Homo sapiens: one gene and its partners. The protein of the gene in region 3 purifies or fractionates together with the protein of the main gene of each other region. This does not show direct contact. Each region holds a gene or a part of one and is shown on either strand. Other genes may lie near its edges. The genes, in order: TOR3A, GJA1, TMPRSS3, DHRS7, TMEM131L, VRK2 and UPK3BL1.

Evidence for each region.
Region 1: the proteins of TMPRSS3 (region 3) and TOR3A purify together in Homo sapiens (affinity purification with mass spectrometry; 2 studies listed by BioGRID and IntAct, with this or other methods). This does not show direct contact.
Region 2: the proteins of TMPRSS3 (region 3) and GJA1 purify together in Homo sapiens (affinity purification with mass spectrometry; 2 studies listed by BioGRID and IntAct, with this or other methods). This does not show direct contact.
Region 4: the proteins of TMPRSS3 (region 3) and DHRS7 purify together in Homo sapiens (affinity purification with mass spectrometry; 2 studies listed by BioGRID and IntAct, with this or other methods). This does not show direct contact.
Region 5: the proteins of TMPRSS3 (region 3) and TMEM131L purify together in Homo sapiens (affinity purification with mass spectrometry; one large-scale study listed by BioGRID and IntAct). This does not show direct contact.
Region 6: the proteins of TMPRSS3 (region 3) and VRK2 purify together in Homo sapiens (affinity purification with mass spectrometry; 2 studies listed by BioGRID and IntAct, with this or other methods). This does not show direct contact.
Region 7: the proteins of TMPRSS3 (region 3) and UPK3BL1 purify together in Homo sapiens (affinity purification with mass spectrometry; 2 studies listed by BioGRID and IntAct, with this or other methods). This does not show direct contact.

What each region holds. Positions count from the first base shown.
Region 1 is NC_000001.11:179,084,771-179,088,815, reverse strand, and holds part of TOR3A (torsin-3A precursor), read right to left. Parts: intron 3,189-4,045; coding exon 2,923-3,188; intron 906-2,922; coding exon 727-905; intron 1-726.
Region 2 is NC_000006.12:121,438,646-121,442,145, reverse strand, and holds part of GJA1 (gap junction alpha-1 protein), read right to left. Parts: intron 1-3,500. UniProt on the Homo sapiens protein: Gap junction protein that acts as a regulator of bladder capacity. A gap junction consists of a cluster of closely packed pairs of transmembrane channels, the connexons, through which materials of low MW diffuse from one cell to a neighboring cell.
Region 3 is NC_000021.9:42,375,242-42,379,286, reverse strand, and holds part of TMPRSS3 (transmembrane protease serine 3), read left to right. Parts: intron 1-2,600; coding exon of another isoform or gene 2,601-2,603; coding exon 2,604-2,746; intron 2,747-3,418; coding exon 3,419-3,571; intron 3,572-4,045. UniProt on the Homo sapiens protein: Probable serine protease that plays a role in hearing. Acts as a permissive factor for cochlear hair cell survival and activation at the onset of hearing and is required for saccular hair cell survival. Activates ENaC (in vitro).
Region 4 is NC_000014.9:60,155,176-60,159,220, forward strand, and holds part of DHRS7 (dehydrogenase/reductase SDR family member 7 isoform 1 precursor), read right to left. Parts: intron 978-4,045; coding exon 825-977; intron 1-824. UniProt on the Homo sapiens protein: NADPH-dependent oxidoreductase which catalyzes the reduction of a variety of compounds bearing carbonyl groups including steroids, retinoids and xenobiotics.
Region 5 is NC_000004.12:153,605,543-153,609,587, reverse strand, and holds part of TMEM131L (transmembrane protein 131-like isoform 1 precursor), read right to left. Parts: intron 1-4,045.
Region 6 is NC_000002.12:58,133,539-58,137,583, forward strand, and holds part of VRK2 (serine/threonine-protein kinase VRK2), read left to right. Parts: intron 1-1,602; coding exon 1,603-1,661; intron 1,662-4,045. UniProt on the Homo sapiens protein: Serine/threonine kinase that regulates several signal transduction pathways.
Region 7 is NC_000007.14:102,639,797-102,644,626, forward strand, and holds the start of UPK3BL1 (uroplakin-3b-like protein 1 precursor), read right to left. Parts: upstream 2,996-4,830; 5' UTR 2,946-2,995; coding exon 2,834-2,945; intron 978-2,833; coding exon 816-977; intron 619-815; coding exon 408-618; intron 1-407.

The DNA of each region.
Region 1 (4,045 bases), on a different chromosome or scaffold from region 3:
GTTGGAGCCTCCGCAAAAAGATGAGGTTGGACAAGTTATTTCTAAGTTGGCTTCACGCAAAGATGTCAGTGAAAGCACAGGAACCTCAGTGCAGTGATTCAGTGACTGGGTCCCGCATGGTAGCGTCACAACTGAACTACAGGTACTCAGAGGAAGCATGGGTTTCTCAACCCGTATACCCTGGATTTTAAGCCAGTGATGACTTCTCATAATCGGAGAAGAAACAGACTTCCAAGGCTGAAGGAAGAAATGGCCGTGTTGGACTTGATGGGAGACTATGCCGTTCTCTAACCAGGCTTGCCTTGGGAATTTGTTTCAAAAAATCTGTCACCCAGATTGGAGTGCAGTGGCCCGATCTCAGCTCACTGCAACCCCCACCTCCTGGGTTCAAGCGATTCTCCCACCTCAGCCTCCCGAGTAGCTGGGACTACAGGCACATGTCACCACGCCCAGCTAATTTTTATATTTTTTGTAGAGATGGGGTTTCACTATGTTGCCCAGGCTGGTCTTGAACTCCTGGACTCAAGGGACCCGGCCGCCTTGGCCTCCCAAAGTGCTGGGATTACAGGCGTGAGCTACCACAGCTGGCTGCTGCTTTCTGTACCAGAGTTTGTGCTGTTTTTTCTTGAGGAAAGGTTCTGAACCTGGGGGCGTGTGGAAGCCTCCACTGCCAGCTAGTATCTTCCCCTCCCCCAGCCCTCCTGACTATTGTTCCCCAGAACCCACCTGAGAAACAGAAAGATAGTCCATGGAGACTCAGCCCTGTGGCCCTCAGGGGCCCGGCGTTCTAAGTGTGGCCCAAGGACCTCCAGCAGCCCTGGGTGCAGCTTCTCCGCTTCATCGAAGATGAACAGGGTCTGGTGGCAGAGCTGCTGCGTCTCCCGGATCTGGCTCATCAGCTGCTCCTGCACGGGATATAGGGAGCAGCTGGGGAAGTGGTGACTCCTTCCACCTCCGGCCTTGAGGGCGTGGTTTCCCCTGGGCATGTGCAATGGACCCCCTGGGGCTGGGTTCCCCACCCCCCGCCCCCCGCCAGAACCTATCAAATCCAAGCTCTTGGGGAGGGCCTAGGACATTTGCATCTGACCAGCTCCCAGGTGATTCTCAAGCACCCTGAGGGTTGAAAGCTAAACAAGGTGAAGCCAGCTTGGGGACTAGGAGACAGCCTAGAAAGGAGTGGGGAGAAGCCCTTCTGCCCTTGAGAAGGGGCCCCTGCTCCAGCCCTGCTCTCTCCTCTCCAGGACTACATCCCATCCAGGAGCTAACAATGTCCACACACCCGCAAACTTTCATTACTTCTACAACAAAAACATCCAGGCGCAACTTCCCTGTTTAAGCTCAGGGTCTATTCCCAGGGGGTGGATAGGAGTTGAGCTTTCATACAGGGGTGATGGGCAAAGAGAGGCTCATGTGCCCAGAGGCAGCCACAGTCCCCTGCCCTGAACTCCCGGGTGCAGAGCGCCCACTGGCACCCTGGCTGGGCCGAGATCTCAGGGGAGCAAGCCTGCTGAAGGACTGACTGGGCCTAACCAACATCCAACTTGGCTCCTGCAAGCTGTGGAGGGTTCCTTGCCCCAGGCAAGACAGTAAACCCTCAAGTGAAAAGATGGTTCTTTGCAATGTTCATCGAAATGGGCAGGGAATATATTATTCAGGGCCAGCTCCCACTCCAGAGCCCACACTCCCTGTCTACTGGGTGCACCTTTGTGGGGGAAAGTGTGAGGTGCAGGGCTATGCACATGCCAGTTTTCACAGCAGGGAAGCTGGGGCTGCAGCAGTCTTGCCACAGTCTAAGCCAGACAGTTCTGCCCGGAAAGGCCCAGCTCAGCCTGCCCCTGCCCTCCAAAGCCATATGGAAACTGCCAGGAGACGCGGGCAGCCTCTGTCCTCAGACGCTGACATAATCTTCCCAGGTGAACACATTCCAAATATTAAAACAAAGCCAAAGACAGGTGCAGTCAATTCTGTCAGGCTCTTCTGGTATGTTTTCAATACTACATGGCTGAATTAGTAGAAGAAACCCAAAATGGCAGAACAGCCAAGGAAATTTCTGTCCATCCACTTGCTGGTATATAATAAGCTGATACGGGAAGACATGAAAAAATCAGGTAAGATAGGATAGGCCTGTTTTCTTTTTTTTTTTTTTTTTTGAGATGGAGTCTTGCTCTGTTGCCCAGGCTGGAGTGCAGCGGCACGATCTCGGCTCACTGCAAGCTCCGCCTCCCGGGTTCACGCCATTCTCCGGCCTCAGCCTCCCGAGTAGCTGAGACTACAGGTGCCCGCCACCACGCCCAGCTAAGTTTTTGTATTTTTAGTAGAGACGGGGTTTCACCGTGTTAGCCAGGATGGTCTCGATCTCCTGACCTCGTGATCCACCCACCTAGGCTTCCCAAAGTGCTGGGATTACAGGCGTGAGCCACCATGTCCGGCCAATAGGCCTGTTTAAATTTTAAAAAGGCAGGATATACAACTTTCTGTCCAACGTAGTTACAATGACAAAGAGCCTGGGGAAAGGTTCCGCACCAAAGGCAGCACATAAAATGCTACCTCTCCTTAGCTGACAAGGGTGTGTCCGTGTGGAGAGTCTGACAGTTTTTGCTTTTCTCTGTTCTACACTGCAGTCTGTGACATTTCACTACTTCTACAACAAAAATCAACATGCAGCGTCCCTGCTTAAGCGCAGTGTCCAGCCTCTCGAGTGTGGCTGTTTGGGGACAGAGCAGGGGGTGGTGTTTGGAACGCCAGTCTCTTCCACATGCTAAGGGCCTCTGTGAGGAGTGGACGGAGTGGCTCTGTCACAGGTTCTGCCACCTGTCCCCACCTCCCCAGGCTTCTCCAGAGCCCATTTCCTTGCAAGGAAGGGCTGGCAGAAGGGTCTCCCTCCCAGCACAGAGGCCTCACCCCAGCCCTGGTCGGCCTCACCTTGTACAGGTCCACATATTTGGGGTGAGGAAAGTGGAACGTGGCGATGAACATCCTGACACAGTCACTCATCAGCCCGTCCCGATACAGGTTCTCCACCAGCATCCGTGCCACGAAGTTCTTGCCTGTGCCAGACCAGCCGTGGAACGACAGAGCAAGGGCCTTTTCTGGCTGGGGCGTCTCTAAGTAGCCCCTCACTGTTCTTAGGACCAGCTGCTGGACCAAATGCTGGCCATGCAGCCGCACATTCAGGTCCCACTCTAAGCCTAAGGACAGGAAAGAGGTAGTCACAGCAAAAGGCACACACAGGCCCATCCACCACAACAGCCAACAGCCAAGAAACCAAGCAACTCTGAATCTCTCTCGGGTGGAATCAGTTACTCCTCCTGTTTGGCCTTAGAATAAGAAGCCAGAGGGCAGACTTTGTAGCAGAAGGGATTCAAGGACTACTTTCTTTTTTTTTTTTTTTTTGAGATGGAGTCTTGCTCTGTCACCAGGCTGGAGTGCAGTGGCGCAATCTCAGCTCACTGCAACCTCCGCCTCCCTGGTTCAAGCGATTCTCCTGCCTCAGCCTCCCGAGTGGCTGGGATTACAGGTGCCCACCACCATACCCAGCTAATTTTTGTATTTTTAGTAGAGACGGGTTTCACCAGGTTGGCTAGGCTGGTCTTGAACTCCTGACCTCGAGATCCGCCCACCTCGGCCTCCCAAAGTGCTGGGATTACAGGCGTGAGCCATTGCGCCCAGCCTCAAGGACTACTTTTTGAAGAGTTTGGGAAATCAAGATGGGACTCAGGGAGAGTGGAATCACCCTTCCTAAAGATCCTGCAGATACCCAGAACAGTTGGCACAGACCTGTCTAGGGAGGAACCCTGTCCCCCATGTCCTGAGGCTGCTCCCATCCCTTGGTTTCAGGGCTCCCTGTTTTATGGAGAAGCCTGATTTTATTCATTCTCATTCAATTCAGCCAACACTTGGTGAGAGCAGCTCCAGTGTGCAAAGCCTTCTGCTAGGTCTAACTTCCTCCTGTCAGACGTGAGGTTGTAGGATTTGGAGATGGCGCTACCAGGAGCCACAGTGCAGACAGGCAGGGTGTGCGGCCAGCTGTGGGTGAGCATTCCAA
Region 2 (3,500 bases), on a different chromosome or scaffold from region 3:
TCCAGCATCTTTTTATGATTGAAAGAAAAGAGAAGGTGAAGGACTTTAATATCTGAAAGAATAAAATCAGAGTCTAAACCTACATAAGGAAATGTCTATGGAAGTTCCCGATAAAATCATTTAATGGATTTTTTGGGAGGAAAGGGAAATCATGTGTGTGTCTAATGTACTAACACCCAAAAATATTCATGCCCAAAAACTCAAATGCAAACCCTTGTAATGTTTTCTTTCACTTTTATAATAACCTCTGCCCCTCCAGTAAATGTCATTGAGTGAACTCAGTTGTCTATTCCTCCGCACTTAAAACAGCCACCCTTAGCTTGATCTCAGCCATCATCAGTTTGCTAGGTTTCATGTCATTAGCCTGGTCACCCTACTTGCCAACCTATACTCCGAGTAATCAGTCAATCTTGAGAAAACAAACCAACAATCAGCTTGGTTTGATGAGCTCTGCTCCATCCACGCAGCTCACGTCCTCACTTGTTGCAGGTCTCACCTCATCAGCCAACTTTCCTGACCACCAAATATGAAATAGCAACATCCTTTCCCCAGTCCTGTCATTTCCTATTCCCTTTGCCCTGGTTTTTAAAAAATTATTATTTTAATAGACTTTCTCTCTACTTGATATAGTAAATATTTGCCTGATTACTATGTACCTCCTTCCATGAGAAGGATTTATTATTTGTCTTCCTTAACTGGAATGTGAACAATACGAGGGAGTTTGCTTTGTTCACTGCTGTATCCCCAGTGCTTGAAAGAGTAAGAGATGTGGCTCACACCTGTAATTCCAGCACTTTGGGAGGCCGAGGTGGGAGGATCATCTGAGGTCAAGAGTTTGAGATCAGCCTGGCCAACATAGTGAAATCCCATCTCTACTAAAAACACAAAAAAGTAGACCGGGTGCGGTGGCTTAAGCCTGTAGTCCCAGCACTTTGGGAGGCCGAGGCGGGCGGATCACGAGGTTAGGAGATAGAGACCATCCTGGCTAACACAGTGAAACCCCGTCTCTACTAAAAATAAAAAAAATACAAAAAAATTAGCCGGGCGTGGTGGCGGGCACCTGTAGTCCCAGCTACTCGGGAGGCTGAGGCAGGAGAATGGCGTGAACCCGGGAGGCGGAGCTTGCAGTGAGCCGGGATCGCGCCACTGCACTCCAGCCTGGGCGACAGAGCGAGACTCCGTCTCAAAGAAAAAAACGACAAACAACAACAACAACAACAACAACAACAACAAAAAAGTAGCCAGGCGTGGTGGCGGGTGCCTGTAATCCCAGCTACTCTGGAGGCTGAGGCAGGAGAATTGCTTGAACCCGGGAGGCGGAGGCTGCAGTGAGCAGAGATCACACCACTGCACTCCAACCCGGGTGATAGAGTGAAACTCCGTCTCAAAAAAAGAAAAGAAAAGAAAAGAATTAATTAATTGGGGTATAGCTACATGTTAAATGAATTAAATGGGGCTTCCACAAAAAATAGAAAGATACTGTGCAAAAAAAAAAAAAAAGTTTGTTTTTTTCTGTCTCTTTGGGATTCTCTTAATTGTAGTTATATCTCAAATTTCTAAAGTTTCAAATTAATTAAAAAGGAAACTTCACAGTAAAAAACTATTGTCATCATCTCATTCTCATACTGTTAAATTTTCAAGTGACAATTGCTGAAACAGAGAACTGTTTGTTGAAACAACATGCTTCAAATGATTCCTGAGCAGGCAAAAGAGCTAAATTAAGAAAAAAGGCTCTTTGCAACCCCCACTGCTAAATTTGACAGGCTTAAAAGAAAAAAGAAAAAAGGCTTTTTAACAAAGAGCTTCCTGAATTTGTTAAATGAGATCCTAATGAGGGTTAGGATTCTTGTAGAACTGCATCAGGTATCATGCTTGTACATTCAGTTCACTGTTAGGTTGTTGCAGGTTAAGATTTAAAACACAAAACAAAAAAAAAAAGGAAAAAACACAACTGTGTGGTTGTCCCCTAGTTCTACGATGTTCTAACTCCGATTGCACCACACAATTTTATTGTAGACAAGGACACTATTACAAGAAGAAATAGCCTGTTTAAAATCGTGTTTATTTCAAGAATGATAAATATCGGGGAAGGCTAGGGCTCTGAAGGGGAAGAGCAGCAGTTGATATTAACCCTGGTTAATGTAACATCTTTACAGTCTGAGTCTATGCAGGCACTAAAGTGATTAGATTCAAGTACCATGGAAAAGATTCCCAGTTCATCAGATAATACCCAACCTTTACTTCCTTATTTATACCTAGATGGCCTAACTATAGTGTATCAAACTTACTGTATGTAAAAATATATTTATAAATAATTGCACATTTGTGTAGGTATTTGATGTTGTGAACTGCTTATTTTGGGGGCAGAGGGGAGGACAACATAAAAACACCAACAAGCCTTCCTTCCCCAGCTCTTACCCCTCCTCATCACTGAACTTACATTAGCATCCACTTAATGAGATGAGATGGGAATTGAGGTGTGAGGAACTCCATCCAAAGAGAGGATGGTGCATCCCATAAAAGACAATCCTCTCCCTAGTTCAACAGCTACTACTCAATTCTCCCCCAAAACAAGTTTCTCAAGATCAATTTAGGGCTACCAGAGAGAAAATCCCAAGTCAGAAGCTGAGGCTAAAAGCCATGTTCTTCAATTGTGATGTAACTTAATATATTTCTATCAGTCCTTGGCGTTTCCTCTGCCCCTACTCTTACTTCCACCTCCAAATTGACTATTTTTAGTGAATAGCCTTGTTATTTTATAATCATATAAAGACACCCTTAGGGCCCTCACAAGTGTATTGATTAAGATAGTCTATTTTTTTCAATGAGAATTTAATAAATAACTCATGCATGTGATGCTCTTAGTAACAGCTCAGTAAAGTTTGGTTCTTACTCTTTAGACGACCTTTAGATATAGCTCATTTGGTTTTAAATTTTTCATCTTTTCTTTAGCAAAACAGCAACTAAGAAATGATTGACAAACATACATTTTCTTTTTAAAATTTTTTTTTATAGAGGTGGGGTCTTGCTATGTTGCTCAGGCTGGTTTTAAACTCCTGGCCCCAAGCGATCCTCCCACCTCAGCCTCTCAAAGGGCTAGGATTACAGGCATGAGCCATCATGCCCAGCTGACGATAAACATATATTTTTCTTAAAATATTATTTTAAAAGCATAGGGAAATTGGAATGTGAAATTTATGAAATTGTATAAGCCACTGATGTATTAAAAAAAAAGAGCTAACCACAGTTTGAAAATAGGTAAAAGACAATCTGTACATACATAGTTAAAAGGTGACTTTAGATGGAGGTTTAGACAATTATGCTAAGAATTTAAAAAATATATACATTAATCTCCCATGGAAGAGATGCTCTGGAGATTTTTTAAAACTTGAATTATCCATACAGAATATTACATTAATAATAAACACTAGATAATTACTTTTTCTCTCCAGAGTTGAACTGGTGTGTGCGGATAAGCTCCCACACATCTCTTCAAATAA
Region 3 (4,045 bases):
GGAGGCCAAGGCAGGAGGATTGCTTGAGCCCAGGAGTTTGAGACCAGCCTGGGCAACATGGCAAGACCCTGTCTCTACAAAAAATTAAAAAAATTAGCCTGGGCCGGGTGCAGTGGTTCATGCCTGTAATCCCAGCACTTTGGGAGGCCGAGGCAAGTGGACCATTTGAGGTTCAGGAGTTTGAGACCAGCTTGGCCAATGTGGTGAGACCCTGTCTCTACTAAAAATACAAAAATTAGCCAGGCATGGTGGCGCACACCTGTAATCCCAGCTATTCAGGAGACTGAGGCTGTAGAATCACTTGAACCTAGGAGGCGGAGGTTGCAGTGAGCCGAGATCATGCCACTCCACTCCAGCTTGGGTGACAGAGCAAGGCTCCATCTCAAAACAAACAAACAAACAAACAAACAAACAAAAATTAGCCTGACATGGTGGTCCCAGCTACTCAGGAGGCTGGGGTGGGATTGCTTGAGCCCAGGAATTCTAAGCTGCAGTGAGCCGTGATCATGCCATCATACTCCATCCTGGGTGACAGAGTGAGACTTTGCGTTTAAAAAAACAAAACAAAACAAAAAAAAAGTGGAGATTTATTTCCACACGCAGTTGAGGTGTCTGTAGGGTGGTTTTCCTGGAGGCTCTGACCCCTTTCCTTTGGGTTCTGGTGGCGGCGGCTGCAGCTGCACTGGCATTCCTGGGCTTGTAGCTGGATCTCCAGCCTCAGCCTCCTTCCTCCCGTGGCTTTGCCCCCTGTGTCTCTGTATCTCAAACTTCCCTCTCCTGTGTCTTATAAGGACAGCAAGTCGTTGGATTTAGGGTCCACCCTAAACGCTGGGAGATCTTATGTTGAGATTCTTACCTTAATTACATCTGCAAAGACCCTGTTCCAAATAAGGTTGGGCTCCATAGTGGCAGGTAGGCATATTTTGGAGGGGCCCACAGTTCAACCTAACACAGGAATTTCAGTGTTTTCCACTCAACACCAATTACTTGAGCCCACCCCCAGCTGAAGGCACCCAGGAGCTAACCCGGATGCTTCGAGTCTGTGGGCCTACTTACCCCCCACCCACTGGCAGTGCTGCCCACCTGGCCGAGGGCACTCACAGCTCTCTGTAGTTTCCAACCCACCCACATGGCCCAGGCCCAGTTCTGTGCCAGTGTGGCTGGTCCAGGGCCTTTCTAGCTTCATCAGAACCAGCACCCCTGGTGTGTGGTGGGAGCTGGGACACCAATCTACGCTCCCCTTCCTCTCATGGTGGGCTCTCATTCCGGACCAACCAGCCCACCAGAGTCATTCTGATGACACTGGGCTCTGAAGAGGAGGCTGTGCAACAGCTTCATCCTCCCAGGAGATTCTCCATCCCGCTGCCGATTTTCTTCTCGCTGTCAATCTGCTCTGTCCAGTGCAAAAGGTCCGACGAGCCCCTGTCCTGATGTAGCTTCAGCTCCAGCCTGTCCTGGAATCTTCTCCCATAATGCATTGAGCTGTTTCGCCACGTTCCGGGCAGGAAGCTGAGTGTCTTGTGATACCATGTGCTCCTCAGAGCAGCCCCTCAGGGTCCTGTCATTGTGTGATTTTGTTGTCTCCATGGAATCTATGGAGTCTTTAAAACACCAAGATGCCTGGGTCACAAACCAGCTGAGTTGGAGGGGTCCATCCCTCGGTGTCGGGGGCGTGCTTGGCCCACTGCACGTGGATTAAGTCTCCTGTGACTGTTGCAACAAACGACCCCAAATTCGTGGCTTAAAATGACAGAAAGGTATCATCTCATAGTTAGGAAGGTCACAGGTCCAAACTCAGTCTCAGGGCGCTGGCGTCAAGTGTGGGCTGTGCTGGCTCCTCCTGGAGGCCCTTGGGGAATCTGTCTCCTGCCTTTCCCAGCGTCTGCACTCTGCCCACACTGCTTGGCTCGTGCCCCTCCTTGGTCTTCCGGGGCAGCAATGCCGCATCTTCGAATCTCTCTCTGACTCTCTGACTCTGGTCCCTGCTCTGTCGTCACAGCTTCTCCTCCGGCTCCTCCAAAGACCCCTGTGACTTCGTCAGGTCCACCCTCTTACTTGGGATCATCTCCCCACTCAAGGCCTGTCCCTCAATGCACCTGCAATGTCCCATTTGCCCTGTAAGGTGACACAGTCACAGGTTCTGGGGATTGGGGTGAGAATGTCTTTGGGGTCATTTTTCTGCTGACCATCCCAGAGTTCACAAAGACGCTGAGTGAGTGACCCTCCTGAGCCTCAGTTTCCCTCCCATAACCTGGGGTGTTCTGATGGCTGATTGGGCTGGTGCCCTGGGGAGGTGTCTTGGCCACTGTTGCCCCTACTCCTCCTCCTCTTTGGACACCTTAGGGGAGTCGGTGGCCCTGCCTTGAAGCAGACTGGCCCCTTGCGGCCACTCGTAGGAGGGCAAGCTCGGGCTTGAGGTGCTTCGAGACAGTGGGAGTCTGCTCGTCCCACCCGCAGGGCCCTGTCCTTTTCCGCTGTTGCGACACACCAGAGAGCATCCCCCTCGTCCCTCGTTCCCTCACCCCCCTGGTCTCAGCATGCGCCTTCTGTGTTTTGGGCCGGGCTTCCTTCTCACACACATCCCCTCACTCACTTTGAAGCAGGTGACGCCTCCCCTGTCCTGAACCACGCGGCCGTCCCTTTGATTTCCAACAAGATCTGCAACCACAGGGACGTGTACGGTGGCATCATCTCCCCCTCCATGCTCTGCGCGGGCTACCTGACGGGTGGCGTGGACAGCTGCCAGGTACGGGGCCGCAGCGGTGGGCGAGGCCGTGGCAGGGTGACCCAGCCCTTGGGACAGGTCGTTGCCAGCGTTTCCCTGTGACAGGACAAAAAGTAAATTTACAGGGCGTGGAGAAGAAATTTGCTCAAGATATCACTCCTTTTCCTGGCTGCCAGCCCTGTGTTTACCCAGTGATCTGGCTCTGCGTGGGTGCTGGGTGGTGGGAGGGGACTCATGCTGCTCCCCTCCAATTCTGACTTTGTGGGGGACCACAGGGGAGGCAGGTGGTGGGGAGGCAGGTGGCGGGGAACCAGTGAATCTGGCCCTCCGAAAGCTGCAGTGGCTGGGACTCCAGTTCTACTAGGTGGATCACAGGTCACCTGAGGGCCCTGGCCAGGTGGACCCTCCCTCTCACCAGCTGCCCTTGAGCTTCAGAGGGTCAGGGTCTGCATTCTGGAAGGGACACACAGCTGGAGGCAGCACCCCAAAGGGGCCGAGGGACATCCTCCCTTGGGGATGCTGTGTCTGGAAGGGCTGGTGGGTTCCCTTCTGTAACCTGGGTCATCCATTGGGACATCATGAAGGGGGGTCCCAACTCCATAGCAAGCAGCCTCACACGGCAGACTGTCCACAGAAAGCAATCTCGCATGGCGGTGACTGTCCCCCAATCTTTGCTTCTTTCCTGTCACCCAGGGGGACAGCGGGGGGCCCCTGGTGTGTCAAGAGAGGAGGCTGTGGAAGTTAGTGGGAGCGACCAGCTTTGGCATCGGCTGCGCAGAGGTGAACAAGCCTGGGGTGTACACCCGTGTCACCTCCTTCCTGGACTGGATCCACGAGCAGATGGAGGTGGGTGCGGCGCCCTCCCCAGCTCACGTTGTCCCTGGCTTTTGACCCTAAGGTCCCTTAAATGCAACCCTGGTCTTGCTATAAAAACCAGGGCGTGACCCAGTGGTTGTCAATTCAGCAGCAGTGACTTGGTGGCTCCAGGGTGTCAGACGCTTGTGCTGAAAACAGAGATCACAGCTAGTCCTGGGCAGCTCTGGGTGGGTGCAGCCTGGCAGGCAGAGGAGCTGGGGCCCGGGAGGAAGAAGGAGCCTCACGACATGGGAAAGGAGGAGGCAGCGAGGAGGAGCCCCTGCTGGGATGGGGATGGGTCGGGCGTGCCCCGTGTGCCAGGAGCAGGGAGAAAGTGGGAGGGGGCGGGGGGCTGAGACAGTGCGGGAGAGGACCTTGCCTGCCTGCTGAGGGGCTGGAACCTCGCTGGGAGCCAGGGATGAGAGGCAGCAGTCAGGAGAGGCTTGGGGAGCTCTGCATTGGTGG
Region 4 (4,045 bases), on a different chromosome or scaffold from region 3:
CGGTGGCTCACACCTGTAATCCCAGCATTTTGGGAGGCCGAGGCAGGCAGATCACCTGAGGTCAGGAGGTCGAGACCAGCATGGCCAACATGGTGAAACCCCGTCTCCATTAAAAATACAAAAATTAGCTGGGTGTGGTGGTGCACGTCTGTGGCCCCAGCTACTCAGGAGGCTGAGGTACAAGAATCGCTTGAACCTGTGAGGCGGAAGTTGCAATGAGCCAAGATCACACCATTGTACTCCAGCCTGGGCAACAAAGTGAGACTTCATCTCAAAAAGAAAAAAGTAAACATAACTACACCAAAATTCAAACAAAAATATTAACACTGTTGCCCTTTATGTGAATATGAAAGTATTACCTCAAGTTGTATTTTTTAAAGCTAATTCCATTCCTGTTCTTTTATCCTATATAATAAGTCTTATCCCATATGATTTTAATATCTGATACTTTAATAAAATGAGTAAGGATTCTTCCTAATTTCTATGATCAGATACATGTATGTCATGGATAAGAACCCAACTGTTTTTTCTCTAAGACAAAAATCTAAGATACTTGGTCACTAAAAATCCACCAGCATTTTATATAATTGTTGGTCACTCCCTAATGCCAAGAGTCAGTGCAAAAAAAGCATAGAAAGGTGGCAGAAAAGAAGAAAAAGGCGAGGGCAGCCAATTAAGGCAAAAAGGAGAGGAACTGAGATGAAGCATGTAGAACATTTGGAGCCGGGGGGAAATCTCACTCCTCTCTAAAAGTCCCAAAACTGTATTTGAGTTTGGACTGATTTATTTCTAGGAAGCACCGCTGCTATTTCAGATCCGCTTACCTAGGCATCTTCTTTTCACCCTTTCCAGCTCATGCACTCTTCTGGCTGACAGCACAAGAGAAACTCCTAGTTTAGACAACTGGTAAGCCAGCTCCTCACCAATTCCACTCGAGGCTCCAGTCACCCACACCACCATATCAGTCAGCTCCCATTCTATGGAAGGAATGTAAATGGAAGGAAGAAAATAAGCAATGAATTACGCTCATAAATCCAAGATTAGAAAAAAAAAAGAAAGCCTTAAACAATACCACTAAATATGAAGGCATGATGTATAGAGTTAAAATTTGAAATATTCTAAGAAAGCATCTCCTTCTTAACTAAAAAAAAAAAAAAGCATTAATACAAATCATACTAGTAACAGTTATCAACACAGTATTTGTATATTACAGAACCTTCATGACTTTTCCAGACTTTACTTCAAGGTAAGCCTTATAACCTCATGGTTTCACTCTAAGGCTCTATTTAACACAAACAGGTAAGATAAATATGATAGATAAGATAAACAGGCTAAGTAAATACAAAAATCACTGTCTGGACTCACTTTTCCTTAGCCATTAAATGAGGCATTCAGATTAGATGATGGCTGAAGGTCACATCCAGTTTTTAATTCTATTATTCTAATATTTTGCAATGGAGGTTGATGAAGAATCTAAATATACCAAGTTCTGTGCTGTTGATGGAAACATCCTAGATTTTTAAAGTAGTATTTTCCCCATTTGCCAATAATGCCTGATGCCTATCAGCTCAAGGTCATTTTGTAAAAATGTTCCCCAGATGCCTGAGCTTTCATCTTAGGAGAATATAGTAATTCACCCAAGAACAAATGCATATTACAGAGAGATGAAATATTGTACTCTGCTTCTCCAATTATGTTCCTCTTAAAAGACTACAAATGTTACAGTACTAAAGCAATGACAAATGGTTTATTCTTTTCTCCAATGAAAAACTTATTAGCACTTCAGGAGATGATATTCACTGTCTCTCTGAACCCGTAAAGTCACTGTTATGCAAAGTTCCTGGGTGACTTATTTACTAAAATATATGTTATTTATCAAAAATATCAAATATCGTATCACTTAACATCACATTTCCGATTTTAGATCAGAAAAGTTAAAATCAGGAAATGATTGTACTGTTTTAAACAGCTCTAAATCCTAACTGTGATGTTAACAGTACCATCCCTGGAGACTGCCAGGGTTCAAATGCCAGCTCCATCACACACAGCACTGAAATGCTCCCAGGTGAGAACTTGGTGCCTTAATTTTCCACAACTGGAAATGTGATGAATAAGAACACATCCTTCACAGGATTGTTGAGAAATGAGTTAAAACATGGAAAGCACTCAGGGCAGTATCTAGTACATACTCAGTGTTTAATAAACGTCAATTATAATTATTGCTCAAGTTTTTTAACAGATGGACTTTACTACAGCAAAACATAGAACAGTCACTTAATAACGTATGTCTCCTAACTTCTCCAGCCAGGAAAACAGAGTTACCAATTCTAATGGCTTAACGTTTTTACATTACTTCCTATGTACTTAGCACATTGTCTACTAAAAGCCTCACCAGAACTGTATGGAAAGGTATTATTATCTCAGTTTTACAGAAAAGGTAACTGAGGTTTACAGAGATTAATTTGTCCCACTAGACCATAGATTCCATTAAGGGTAGGACCCTGTCTACCTTGTTCATTGCTGTGGCCTCAGTGCTTAGCAAAGACTGGAATATTGAAAAGGCTCCATAAATAACTACTGAATAAACACCCAAGAACCCTGGCAGAGCCGGGATATAAGCCCAGGTATATCTAGCTCCAAAGCCCACACTGTCCACTATTTCATGATATACACATTTACATATGATCAATATTTTAAAACCCAACTGTTTCTTAGACATTCAAGAAAATACCACTTGTCCTTAAGAAAAAGGTTCCATGTAAATATCTCAACTAAGGCCAGGTACGGTGGCTCACATCTGTAATCCCAGCACTTTGGGAGGCCAAGGCGGGCAGATCACTTGAGGCCAGGAGTTCGAGACCAGCCTGGCCAACATGATGGAACCTGTTCTCTATGAAAAATACAAAAATTAGCCAGGTGTGGTGGCGCATCGTTGTAACCCCAACTACTCAGGAGGCTGAGGTGCAAGAATTGCTTGAACCTGGGAGGCAGAGGTTGCAGTGAGCCAAGATTGCTCCACTGCACTCCAGCATGGGTGACAGAGTGAGACTCTGTCGGAAAAAAAAAAAAAAAAAAAAAAATCTCAACTAAGGATGGAAACATCCCAAATACTATGTCTGGGCTACAATGCTTTCCTGTCATATAACGTACTTTTGTGAAAAGGCACAATTGGGCCACCTTCCTATAGGACTTTATCAAGAACAACATAACATCTATTCAGATAATCATTTATTCATTCATTGACTACTTGTTGTTCCCAAGTTCTGCAATCATCACACTCTAGAGTGAATATCATTTGTTTTAGAAACACAGGATTTACTAACTAGTGTCGAGCTAACAAAGACCTCTTGATATTTACACACATAAGCAAATATTTAAAGCTGATGGTGTAAACTTTTAATACAATCACAATTCTGGCCTCTTCCTCCCACCCTGAAGAAACTTTTTTATTTAGCACCGTTTGTTTCCCGATTCCACAGAATCTGGTATACATAATGGCCTCCCTTTAAGAGCCCCTGAAAGTAGATTCTTAAGAGTTGAAAGGAAAGTGATAGTTCAACCCCCACTCCAGTTTGAGAATTCTCTTCTCAAGCCCTTGACCCATCTCTAATTCCCTCACAGGATGAGGAAGCTAATTATCTCTGAAGGCTTCAGCTCCTTTTTTGGGAAAGTCTAATCATTCCAGGGATCTTTTTTATACTGATATGATAAGCTTTTAAATGCTATCAACCAGTAGCAGTGGGCAGTAATCCTGCCTTGTGGTTTGACAAAGAAGAAATCAAACTTCTGGTGTCGGTGGGTCCAAGTGTCCAGCCTGAGGCATCCTCCCCATCCCTTCCTCTCCCAGCACCTCAAACATTCATCAAGGATTTTGTATCCAAGGCCCAAAAGTTTGTTACCCAAGACGACAAATATTGACATGGATGCAGTTGATGCTGAAAATCATTTGGAATTGGAGGGAAAAACACAGCTTATTAATCAAGTGTTGGAACCCCAACATACACTTCAAGATCTCCCTGTCAGAGGAGATGCGGTTACGGAAGAA
Region 5 (4,045 bases), on a different chromosome or scaffold from region 3:
TGAATGTTAACAACAAGTTCTGCAGTGACTCTGAGAAATTCTAACATGAAAGCATTCAAGAATATGGGATACCAAACACATACGTCATTTACAAATGGGGTCAATCCATGCAATATGGTTTGGTTCTGTGTCCCCACCCAAATCTCATGTCAAATTGTAATCCTCAATGTTGGAGGAGGGGCCTGGTGGGAGGTGACTGGATCATGGGGGCTGACTTCTCCCTGGCTGTTCTCATGATAGTGAGAGAGTTCTCACGAGATTTAGTTGTTTAAAAGTGTGTAGCACTTCCCCCTTCACTCTCTCTTCCTCCTGCTCCCACCATGCAAGACGTGCTTGCTTCCCCTTTACCCCTCCACCATAACTGTGTTTCCTAAGGTCTCCCCAGAAGCAGAAGCCTGTACAGCCCACAGAACTGTGAGCCAATTAAACCTCTTTATAAATTATCCAGTCTCTGGTATTTCTTTATGGCAGTGAAAAACAGCCTAATACACCAAGTCATCCTATTAAGTGTGCAACTTCCCCATGACCTCACTGAGTAAGAGTGTACCACAGTTAAAAATCAAAAACAAATGGAAAGAACACTAATAATAATAAAGGGGGCAGGAGAAGACGTTGGGAGGTGCACATGTTAATGCCCTTCACGGTGGTAATGGTTTCACGATGTACACTTATTCCCAAACTCATCAAGATGCATACATTAAGTATGTACAGCTTTATAGGTCAGTAATTCCTTTTAAAAGTGGTTAAAAAACAGAAACAAATGGAAGAACAAGACACAAGTGATCTCCTCAGTAACCTGCTTAAAGTTGTACTGTCTCAAATCTAATCACAATCACGTGGTCTGTTTTGAATAAACCATTAAATCTTCATTTCAAGTTAATAGTATCTGTAAGTAAATAGGAACATTTTTGGAATTTCTGCAAATACCAATAATTTCAGAAAGGTGAGGAATGTAATTCAGTGAAAACTTTCAGGTACTGTTAAGCTCAAGGCTTGAGCTATTATCAAATTTAATTATACCTTTACATTATTACAGGTAGAAACCCGTGAAATAATTTGCTCACTATTTCTCCTTGGTAGTGCTGCGGCCAACCATAGCTTGTCTTTAGCCATAACTCTAATCTACATTATTTTGATCAGACAGTGAAAATGGTTACAAACATTTAAAAAGAGCTATATTCACAAGATCATTTACATTACACATAAAGCCCCACTCTTGTCAGATGACCAAGAGGTTCTGGAACGTATAACGAATGTTTGACAAGTTTAACTGTTTGATAGTTGTTTGACAAGTTGATGCCAAAAAACAAGTGTAGAAAAACAGAGCCCTAAAGAATGTCAGCAGACTTTATTTCTATTGAGAATTTTAATTAATTATTTACTACAGGCCTCTCCGAAGCAGGCAGGGGAAATGGAGTAGAAAAGGGACACATTTTTTTTTTCATTTTTTGTTTTTGCTTTTATTTTTGAGACAGGGTCTCACTCATTGCCCAGGCTGGAGTGCGGTGGCACAATCACAGCTCACTGCAGCCTTGACCTCCTGGGTTCAAGTGATTCTCCCACCTCAGCCTCCCAAGTAGCTGGGACCACAGGCCCATGCTCATGTACCACCATGCCTGGCTACATTTGGCTACTATACATATACATATACTTCTTTGGGTAGAGATGGAGTTTCACCAGGTTGCCCAGGCTGGCCTGGAACTCCTGGGCTCAAGTGATCTGCCCATCACGGCCTCCCAAATATGACACATTTTCTATTACTTACAAAATATTATGTTTCTTGATGGCAAGTATGTAGTCAAAGCCATTCATACATACCCTAGAACATTTTCTTCTCACACAATAAGCTACACCCGGGGGTGGGGGGAAGCCTCAGAATAGGAGAAGGCAGATTATTCAGGTGCCTCCAGGAGTTCTGATAGTTAGGAAAATCACTTAAGGTATTCTTAAGAGGCGGGACTGTCCCCACCTTTCCCTTTTTCCCTTTAAAGGCAATCTTATGACTAGAATGGTTTCTACAGACCATTTGTATACTTTGGGAGAAATGGCTAAAATGTGGCAAACACACTGAGTGAGTTCCCATTCTGCTGGAATCCTAACTGCCAGTCACACAGGAGACAACGTGACTGGCACTTAGGATTCTCAGCTATCAGGCAGGTTGAGTCCAGCTCAAAGACCAAGCTGTTTTCTTCAGATTCTAGAAAAGATCTTACAATGGAAACAGCACACATTTCACAAAGTAAAATACTTTTCAAAGCTAGCAAAGAACTAATGCTCAAAGCTGGAAGTAAAAACTTAAAGGTTCTTATATATATGCTTTTCTCATTCTCAAGCATTCTTTGCACTTGTGACTTACCTGTCAATTATACGCGTTTATCATTTGCCAAGTTATTGCAATGCTTTCCTCTGAAATTCAACAGAGCCCCAAACCCTTAATATTACTAAAAAAACTCCAAACCCTCCCTTCAGACTATAATTATCTTTCCCTAGATTTTTCAGTCCTTTCTTATTTTTAATATTTAAAATTCTTGAACAATTTTAAATTGTACATGGATAGCAGGCAATTTATTCACTTTTTAACATCTCGGATATTTTCCCAGGACAGTGCTGTGAACATAAAACAGTCAGAACAAAATGCATGTCCATGTACAAACTTCCCTGGGAGGAATCTCCTGCTAACATATAACTTCTGCAGACACGTAGAGGACTGTGAATTAGCACCTCTGAATTTGCTGGTCTGAACATGGTGGAAAGCAAAAGTTCTTTCCTCAGCTCTTACTTGATCTGATCAACAATCACTCTGGTACCACTTAACATGCTGCTGATCCAGCCAAACAGTATTTTTAAATTCTGGCAGTGAAAGATTTGTTGCCATTTAAAACATTATAAGCATACTAGTAATCTGTACAGGAAGGAAAGATTCTGGGCAGGTTTACCATCTACAATGATACAGGCAAACTCTATGTTTCCAGACTCCCATATTAAATTTACTCACGCTTATTAAAGTGTTATTACCTGCTCATCTTGGCTCAGCTATTGGCATTGAATGTCAAGTACTAGACAGGAGGATCCTGAAGAAGAATTCAAATCCTCTGACCTACTCTGACACTACATTTCTCATCCATGCCTTTATATTTCAACTGCTTTAAAGTATTAAGATATAGAAGGTCCCTCCCATCCATCTACCACACTGCCACGGGCATTGCATCTTGCAGGCACATATCTCTTGTGGGCACAAGCGATCACAGAAGAAGCACTTCTGGAGGGAGGATTCCCTCAACTCTAATTTCAAGTGTGTGCAAAGTCATCCTATGTCAAAGACTGTGCTCAAGCCTAAAAGACTCACGTAACAGGGGAAATGTCCAACAGGACTCACTCCATAATTCACCTTTTCACAAATGTTTTGTATTCTAGACCCCAGAGAGTGTCTGGGAGAGAAACAGAATAAGACACCCAATCACCCCATCATAATACATCCACAGACAAGGTATGCCATGGTTTGATTTGAAGATCTGGGTGAACTGCATTACCAGGGGGCATACTCACACGCCAGGTGGAGGAGACAGGGCACAGTGTCCACCCTGCAGACATAAGTCCACTTCAGGCGTGTGCACCACTGCCAGGGGAAACGGTACAAACGGGTTGGACTAAATGCACCAAGAATGCATGTGTGCAGCTGCCTAGACCACATTCCCCTCAGAGGACTCCAACTTTCTTTTAAATTAGAAATGTCCTTATACAGAACATTTAAAATTCAGTTGAGGATTTTCACCAAATGCATAAAAGCTCATCAGAAGTAGTCAATCCATAATATTTCTGTACCTCTTCTCCAATATCAAGAAGTGAAAAAGATGAAGTTATATTTAGATGCTTCAAATAAGACAAAAGGTGACTGAGTTTTCCAGATTAAAAATTGTCAAAAATCTGACCATAGGCTGGGAGCAGTGGCTCACGCTTGTAATCCCAGCATTTTAGGAGGCCAAGGCAGGCAGATTGCTCGAGCTCAGCCTGGCTAACATGGTGAAACCCCATCTCTACAAAACAG
Region 6 (4,045 bases), on a different chromosome or scaffold from region 3:
ATCTCCCTTATGCCTTTTATTTTCCTGACATAGCATGCTGCTGGATCAATGTGTGTATTGTTGCTACTCTGCCTATGCCAGAGGTGGTGACTCACTCACACATATAAATAATTTTAGTTGAATGTTTTTATAGGTTGTGTATTCCTTACTTGAAAGGCTTGGGACCAGAAGTGTTGCAGATTTCAGATATTTTTAGATTTTGGAATATTTGCATTATACTTACCAGTTGAGCATCCCACAAACCTGTTTAATCATGGGACAGCATAAAATATTGCCCAGTGGAGAACAATGCACATATATACTTAGATACAATGTTTGCGTGAATTTTTTATTGTTGTTTTTGAGAAAAAAAATCATGGTAAATATTACTACTTCTGTGTTTCTGCATACATAAACTTTGAGTTAAAGCATTTATATTATAATTCCTGTAATTCCATCTTGTTTAGTATTGGGGCCCAGAGAGCAATACCCCAAAGTGTGATGCTTTGGCATGCTGAGACCTTTGAACTGAAAGAGACTGGATGGCCCCAGAAGCCACCTCAGAAGCCAAGTCTCACTCTGACCTTCTCCTGCCCTCTTGTTTCCCATCCCTTCTCCTCCCAAGAAGAGAGTCATAGAAACCAGAATTCCTCTTCCCCAAAGCGGGTTATAGAAACTAGAACCCCTGTACCCCAAGCAAGGCATTAAACTTAGGAAGGTCACCCTCTCCCTTCTCCCTTTAAGACCCTCATTCCAAAGGGGTCCTGCCCCATCCCCAGGAGGAATAAATGCTACATACATCAAGAATATGGGGCCGGGCGCGGTGGCTCACGCCTGTAATCCCAGCACTTTGGGAGGCCGAGGCGGGTGGATCATGAGGTCAGGAGATCGAGACCATCCTGGCTAACAAGGTGAAACCCCGTCTCTACTAAAAATACAAAAAATTAGCCGGGCGCGGTGGCGGGCGCCTGTAGTCCCAGCTACTCGGGAGGCTGAGGCAGGAGAATGGCGTGAACCCGGGAAGCGGAGCTTGCAGTGAGCCGAGATTGCGCCACTGCAGTCCGCAGTCCGGCCTGGGCGACAGAGCGAGACTCCGTCTCAAAAAAAAAAAAAAAAAAAAGAATATGGACAGGCTTTGCTGGATCCCCCCGCCCCAGTTCAGTACCATTAGAACATACCCTTTTGTCCAGTCACATTCCTACACAGCTGTCTATTCTTCATCAAACCTAAGCATAAAGATAGACTTCCTTGGGTCTTTGGTCTTCATTTCTCAAGTCGTGTCATATAAAACTTTAATTAAATAAATTTGTTATACTTTCTCCTGTTAACTGGTCTTTTGTTATAGGAATGTTGGCTGCAACCCTTATGGTGGGTGAGAAAAGAGATCACACCTTTCTGCCCCTACGTTAGTCTAGGTTATTGATATAAAATTAGTTTGTGGGCATTGAGGGTTCTCCTCTACTTCTGCTTACTTTCCTATCCATTATAGTTGGGTGACAAAAAAAAAAGCATTGAAAGTCACAATTTTGGTGACCTACCAACACATAGAGTGTTTTGTTTTCTAGTCAAAATAATCACAGGGTTGAAAACATGTTCATTGTGCATTACCTTATTTTGTTTTAGTCTGTTGGACGAGCTCCCCCAGTCAGTGCTTAAATGGGCTCCTTCTGGAAGCAGTTGCTGTAAGTCAAATAATAACTTCAACCTTCTCTTACGATTTACAGGTTGCCACATTTGTCGTTATCGTTTGGTAGCTTTTGCTTAACCCACTTGCTCCTATTCCCATCAGGGTGGGAAGGAGGGAACTCTTCATGTTGCAAATAAGTTGCTAAAGAACACAATGTTTAAATCATCTTTAACATTAGAACACAAAAAACCTCAAAAGAAGATATTGAGGTGGAAAATTCTAGGTTCTGCTTAGTGCTTTTTTTTTTTTTTTTAAGATCTCTATTTTGAGAATCATGCACAGGCTTAATAGTCAACCGTATCTGGTATTTCTAGAGTTAAGACTTCCTGGTTTTGTTCCTCTATATATTGTTGAAAGAAGATAAAGTTGACCTAAGGAAAAACTACTTTTCATCAGTCATTTAAAAAACCAAATCAGTAAACACTGAATGCTGTTTAGACCAGAATTATGCTGACTGAACTGCCAGCAAAAAAAAATTTTTATTAGCAAAGGCATATGATTTTGGGATTTGGAGGTATATTTCATATTTTCAAGTTAGTATACAATGGAATTTTTAATTGACAATGTTATCAATACATATTGTATAAAATAGCACGTCAACTAGTAATTACCCACATTCCTGTCATTTTATGTGCATACACAACATGTTATTCAACACTAATTTAACAATTGAGTTAGACTGTCTTATACGAAAAAGCCAGTGCCCACTATCAGTCTTGCTTTTTTTCAGAGACAGATAATCAGAGTGAATCTTGTTTTCTGTTTACACTGGACAATCTCAAAGTTAGCTTTGAGCTGACTTCTGAAAGTAGATATGTACACTGACCTCTCTAGCTAAGGTCTAATAGCATCTGTTTCCATCTGGTTGAGAATTAGAGAGTTAAGTCATCTTAAACTTACATTCACAGCCTTTCTTTCACTGGAAACCAAAATTTTCATTTGTGGAGGAAAGGAAAGAATAAGCCAGTTCTACTTCCCCTCTCCATTTGCAAGTCCAATAAGCCTATCCCCACATGAGTCTTTTGTTTTCCCCTTTCTCTAGTACTTTTCATCGGATTGAGGGAGCCACACAGGAGAGATCCTCATTGTGGGAATGGGTTGCAAGATGAAATTTTTGTTTTCATAATTGTCAATAACTTGGTCAAAATGGCAGTACTCCTTTATGGCTAATATTCTTAATGGCATTTTTTTTTTTTTTGAGACAGAGTCTCGCTCTGTCACCCAGGCTGGAGTGCAGTGGCACGATCTCGGCTCAGTGCAACCTCCCCTTCCTAGGTTCAAGCGATTCTTCTGCCTCAGCTTCCCAAGTAGCTGTGACTACAGACACGTGCCACGATGCCCAGCTACTTTTTGTATTTTTAGTAGAGACAGGGTTTCACCATATTGGCCAGGCCTGGTCTCAAACTCCTGACCTCGTGATCCCCCCCACCTTGCCCTCCCAAAGTGCTGGGATTACAGGTGTGGGCCACTGCGCCTGGCCCTTATTGGCACTTTTACCAAGTTGTATAGTTCATCTTTTAATCAACTGGACAGAAAGATGGGAAGATGTCATTAACATATATATATATCATATATATGTGTATATATATCATATATATGTGTATATATATCATATATGTGTGTATATATATCATATATATTATATCATATATATGTGTATATATATCATATATTATATCATATATATGTGTATATATATCATATATATATCATATATGTGTATATATCATATATATTATATATCATATATGTGTATATATATCATATATTATATATCATATATATGTGTATATATCATATATATTATATATATCTCATATGTGTATATATATCATATATAATATATATGTGTATATATCATATATCATATATAACATATATATGTGTATATATCATATATATAACATATATCATATATGTGTATATATCATATATCATATATATCATGTGTTTATATATATCATATATCATATATATCATATATGATACATATATATCTCATATATGATACATATATATCATATGATACATATATATCATATATATGATATATATGATATATATGTGTTTGTATATATATCTCTTACCTTTCTTGTCAATCCTGCAGAAAAAGGAACTGTTCAGTTTAGGGTAAGAAAGCCCAGATGCCCTGAATTGTACAAGACAAATGCTTGTGGGCAGTGTATATTATGTCATACTCTATTGTTAAAGATTTGAGTCAGATGAGTAATCTAGATGGGAGACAAGCCCAGTTTTTGTTTCTTAGCACAAACCATTTTATTGAATCCATACTATTATTTATAAAATGCAGATTTCTGTTTCTAAAGCAAAAAGTGTTGAAACTTTAATATTACATGAAGGTCTCTTAAATTAGGAGGT
Region 7 (4,830 bases), on a different chromosome or scaffold from region 3:
CAAAAAGTAGTCGGGTGTGGTGTCAGATGCCTGTAATTCCAGCTACTCGTTAGGCTGAGGCTGGAGAATCGCTTGAACCCGGGAGGCACAGGTTGCAGTGAGCCGAGATCACCCCACTGTACTCCAGCCTGGGTCACAGAGCAAGACTCCATCTCAAAAAACAAAACAAAAAAAAAAAAAAAAAAGAAGAAGAAGAAAAGGAAAAAAAAAAAAAAGAGAAGAAGGATAATTCATGTAATTCATGAAGGCCTCCCTAGCCCCTGCCTGCTGCTTCCTCTTCCCTTTGGCCAAGCAGGAGCAGGGGACCCAGGCATCCTGCTGGGGCCCTGGTGAGCCTCGTAGGAGCTGCCCCAGGCTCCGGCTTGGGTGCATGCGGGCAGGAGCCAGGGCCTGGCAGAGCTGCTCACCTGTAGGGGCCGGGTCCTGGTAGGGGATGGTTGCAGCCAATTTTTGTTGGTTGGCAGTGGGTATCATTGCCGACGCGGAGGACATGGAGCTGGCCTCTGGTCTGGTACAGCACCCGGTTGGCCCTCAGTGTGAGATAGTAGCCCCTCTGGGAGAAGTTGGCAGGAGCAGGGATGTCCTGGTTTGTCCGTGGGGCCGTGAAGCTCTGGGTGGCTAAGGGTGGCACCATGGTCAGACAGGTCACACAGCAGGATCCCACCCTCACCTTACCAAGCCTGACAGCCCTCCCCGGCCCCATCCCCTGCAGCACCTGCTCCCTGCATCTCCCTGCAACACACCCGCTACTGCCCTTAGGCCCGCAGGCCCATTTCACATAGGGAAAACCGAAGCCTGGCCCCAGCAGCACCCACCGTTGCTGAGGGCCACCACCAGCCAGATGGTATCCAAGTCAGAGATGTTGTGGCTGCTGAACTGGCCTAGAGGCTGCTCCAGCGTGAAGGTGGACAGGGTGAGCCTCCCCGCCAAGGTGTCGTTTGAGAGCTGGGGCACATAGCTGATGTGCTCTGGGGCAGCTGGAAGGGGAGGGCAGAGAGGAGAGTCCAAATGGGGCAACCAAGCCCCAACAGCTCTGGTCTCCCCCCGCCCAGATCCAGACTTAACATGGGAGCCCCAAGTTACGGGCACTTCCTGGGAGGTCAGGTCCGGTATGAACCAGGAAGCTTTCCCGGCAACTCTATGCCCCATGGGCATGGGTGGGAGGCCTGAGTCCAGCCCCTGGCCCCTCTCTTAGGAGCCTACTGGGGGTGGGCACTGTGGGAGGTCTAGGACAATGGTGGCATGGGAGGTCCCACCCTGGCGGTAGGCACAGTTCTCCTGGGCCGGGCCATGTTGGGATGGAACTGGAATTTGGGGGCAGCCTGACCCTAGGCTGAACTCTGTTCCTGACATGCCCAGTGACCTCCAACTTAAGTCCCTCCAGCTCCACCCACATGGTCTAGGTTGTTTTGCTTGATGAGAGGATGCGTGGCTTGGCAGGGGTCGGGGGGATGGCACAGGAAGGTCCTCTTGGCTGAGACCCCAGGCTGGGACACAGACTGCCCAGAGGGTCCGGGGGCTCTGGAGCCAGAGCTTGGTTCCGAGTGAGTCTAGAACGTCCTCTTCAACCTGCCTGGTTCTCTGCCGCCTCCCAACATGGCCCCGAGGCATCTTCGCCTTCAGGACCAGGTCCCCCTCTCAGACTCCCACCTCATCTCTCTGGGGAAGGGTGGGGGACGAGGACAAGCTTCCCAGGTCTGTACCCCAAAGGGGACTCAGGATTGGCAACTTGGCCTGTGTCCAGCCTTGCTGGTTGGAGAGCTCAGACCTCCCCAACCCCAAATACTGGTCTAGGAGAAGCAGAACGATGGAGTGGGTTTCTATGTGAGTCTCCAGCAGCTGCCCCTGTTCAGTTCAGTTCAGTTCAACTTCATTCATTTACGTTGAATTCAACTCAACTCCAAAGGTTCAGGCTAGAGTCTTCCTTGGGGAAGGATTGTCACGATTCCTTTCTTACAGCTCTCAGTCCTATCTCTGAAGCCCAGGGCACTCTGCGTGCAGGAGGCACGTAATGTTTAGAAAGAGAAGTGGAGGCCGGGCGCGGTGGCTCACGTCTGTAATCCCAGCACTTTGGGAGACTAAGGCGGGCATATCACGAGGTCAGGAGTTCGAGACCAGACTGGCCAATATGGTGAAACCCTGTTTCTACTAAAAATACAAAAATTAGCCAGACATAGTGGCGCACGGCTGTAATCTCAGCTACTCAGGAGGCTGAGGCAGGAGAATTGCTTGAACCCGAGAGGCGGAGGTTGTGGTGAGCTGAGATCGCGCCACTGTACTCCAGCCTGGGTGACAGTGGGAGACTCTGTCTCGAAAAAAAAAAAAAAAGAAAGAAAAAAAAGAAAAAGAAAAAGAAAAAGAGAAGCGGAGCAGTCAGAGATTGGGGTTGGGGGCAGAGATTGTAGGACTGTATCTCTCAGCCTGTCCAGTTTTTCTTTTCTTTTCTTTTTTGAGACAGGGTCTTGCTGTTTGGCCCAGGCTGGAGTGCAGTGGCGCATTCATAGTTCACTGCATGGGCTCAAGCCATCCTCCCGCCTCAGTCTCCCAAGTAGCTGGGATTACAGGTGCACTCCACCACACCCAGCTAATTAAAAACAAAAATCTTAAAAAAAAAAATCTTTTTGAAAAAAGGGGTCTTGTTATGTTGCCCAGGCTGGGCTTACCAGAGCTTCCTGGGGACATGCATTGTCCTGGACATCTGGAAACCTCTCCTCAGGGAAAGGAAGGAGGCAGGAGCCATGTGTGAGAATTTGGAAACAAAGTGAGGTCTTGGGTTTGTCCTGCAGCCTGAGATGCAGCGGGTACCCCTGTGCCAATCCCCACCCTTACTCACCCACGTCTGTCCCAGGCTGGACACGGGTCAGTAGCAGCAACAGCGACACTAGCAGCTGGGACTGTCCCGCAGAGAGCCCTATGGCCGGGCCAAGCCTCCAGCTGTTGTCCATCTGTCTGTCCGTCCGTCTGCAGTGTCTGCAGCCCCAGAGGCTCCCCTGTCTGTAGTCTGTGCTGTGCTAGGGGAAGCTGTTCCTGGCATCTCCTGCTGCCCCTCCCAGCTACCCCCTCCTCTCAAACAACTGGTTGGACAGGTTTGGGGGCAGAATCTGCCAGCCCAGTGAATCTGGCATCGCCAGGGAGGGGTCTGAAGAGAACATACAGTTGCAAGACAAGCCTGGACTACCCCCCCCACCCACCAGGAGCGCCTGACCAGGGAGGGGCTGAGGAAGGAGGCGGGGCAGCCTCAGGATCCAGGCTGCCCCAGGGACAATCCCGCTAAGTCTACCCCGTGGATCTCCTTGTCCAAACAGTCCCCAATGTAGCGACTCTTCCTTTAGGACCTGAGGTGGGAGGATCACTCGAGCCTGGGAGGTTGAGGCTGCAGTGAGCCAAGATGGCACCACTGCACTCCAGCCTGGATGACAGAGTGGGACCCTGCCTCAAAAAAAAAAAACAAAAAACAAAAAACAAAAAACCAACCTAGGAGGAGTTGGTGTCTGTTTTTGGTTCATAGGGAGTGCCGCTCAAGCAAACTCCCTGGAGTCTCTTTTATTTATTATTATTTTTTTTTGGGGGGGGCAGGGTCTCACTCTTTCGCCCAGGCTGGAGTGCAGTGGTGCGATCATAGCTCACTGTGGCCTTGACCTCCCAGGCTCAAGGTTCTCAGATTCTCAGGCCCCACCCTGGGGAAGGATGGAGGATGAGGACAAGCTTCCCAGGTCCACATGACAGAGGGACTCAGGATTGGCAATTTGGCCTGTGTCCAGCTTTGCTGCTCAGAGAGCTCAGATCCCCACCCTCAATTCACTCCCTTGTGTGGAAGGGAGTGACCCTCACTTTCTAGCACACACAGGGAAGAGGGCTTGGCTAAGAGCACCCAGGAGGTCAGGGCAGGACTGGGGATTAGATCACACCCAAATGCATCTCTGTGGCACTCCTGGTATAGCCCTGCTGTCCCCCTGTAGCCTGGCCCTGGGAGGGGGGCTCCCAGACTTCACACCCCCTCACCTCTTTATCCAGGGGACCGGCTGTCTCTTCCTCCTTCATCCCCAGCCTCTGTCAGGGCAGGGTAGTTCCTCCTCGAGACAGAAAATTACCAGATGGAAGTCCAGGCATGGTGGCTCACGCCTGTAATCCCAGCATTTTGAGAGGCCGAGGTGGGTGGATCACCTGAGGTCAGGAGTTCGAGACCAGCCTGGCCAACACGGCGAAACCCCATCTCTACTAAAAATACAAAATTAGCTGGACGTGGTGGCTTGTTCTTGTAACTCCAGCTACGCAGGAGGCTGAGGCAGGAGAACCACTTGAACCCAGGAGGCAGAGGTTGCAATGAGCCGAGATCGCACCACTGCATTCCAGCCTGGGCAACAAGAGTGAAACTCCCCCTCAAAAAAAAAAAAAAAAAAAAAAGATGAGATGGGGCTCAGGGCAGGTGGAGCGAGACCTGTGACCACCTCTCCCCTGGATCGGGGTGCTAGCCCCCGTCAGCCTGACCTTCACGCTCTAATTATGCCAGATGTCTTCATTCTGGGAAACCCAACAGATTATCACCTGTGGGCCCCATTTTTGGATGAAGAGGGACCATTCCCTGAAGGGGACATACCTCAGTTCCCCGAGGGGATTCAGATGTTCACCTCAACTCACAAGAAAAACTTCTGGCCGGGCGCAGTGGTTCACACCTGTAATCCCAGCACTTTGGGTGGCCAAGGTGGGCGGATCATCTGAGGTCAGAAGTTTGAGACCAGCCTGACCAATGTGGAAAAACCCCGTCTCTACTAAAGATACAAAATTAGCCAGTCGTGGTGGCACGCGCCTGTAATTCCAGCTACTCGGGAG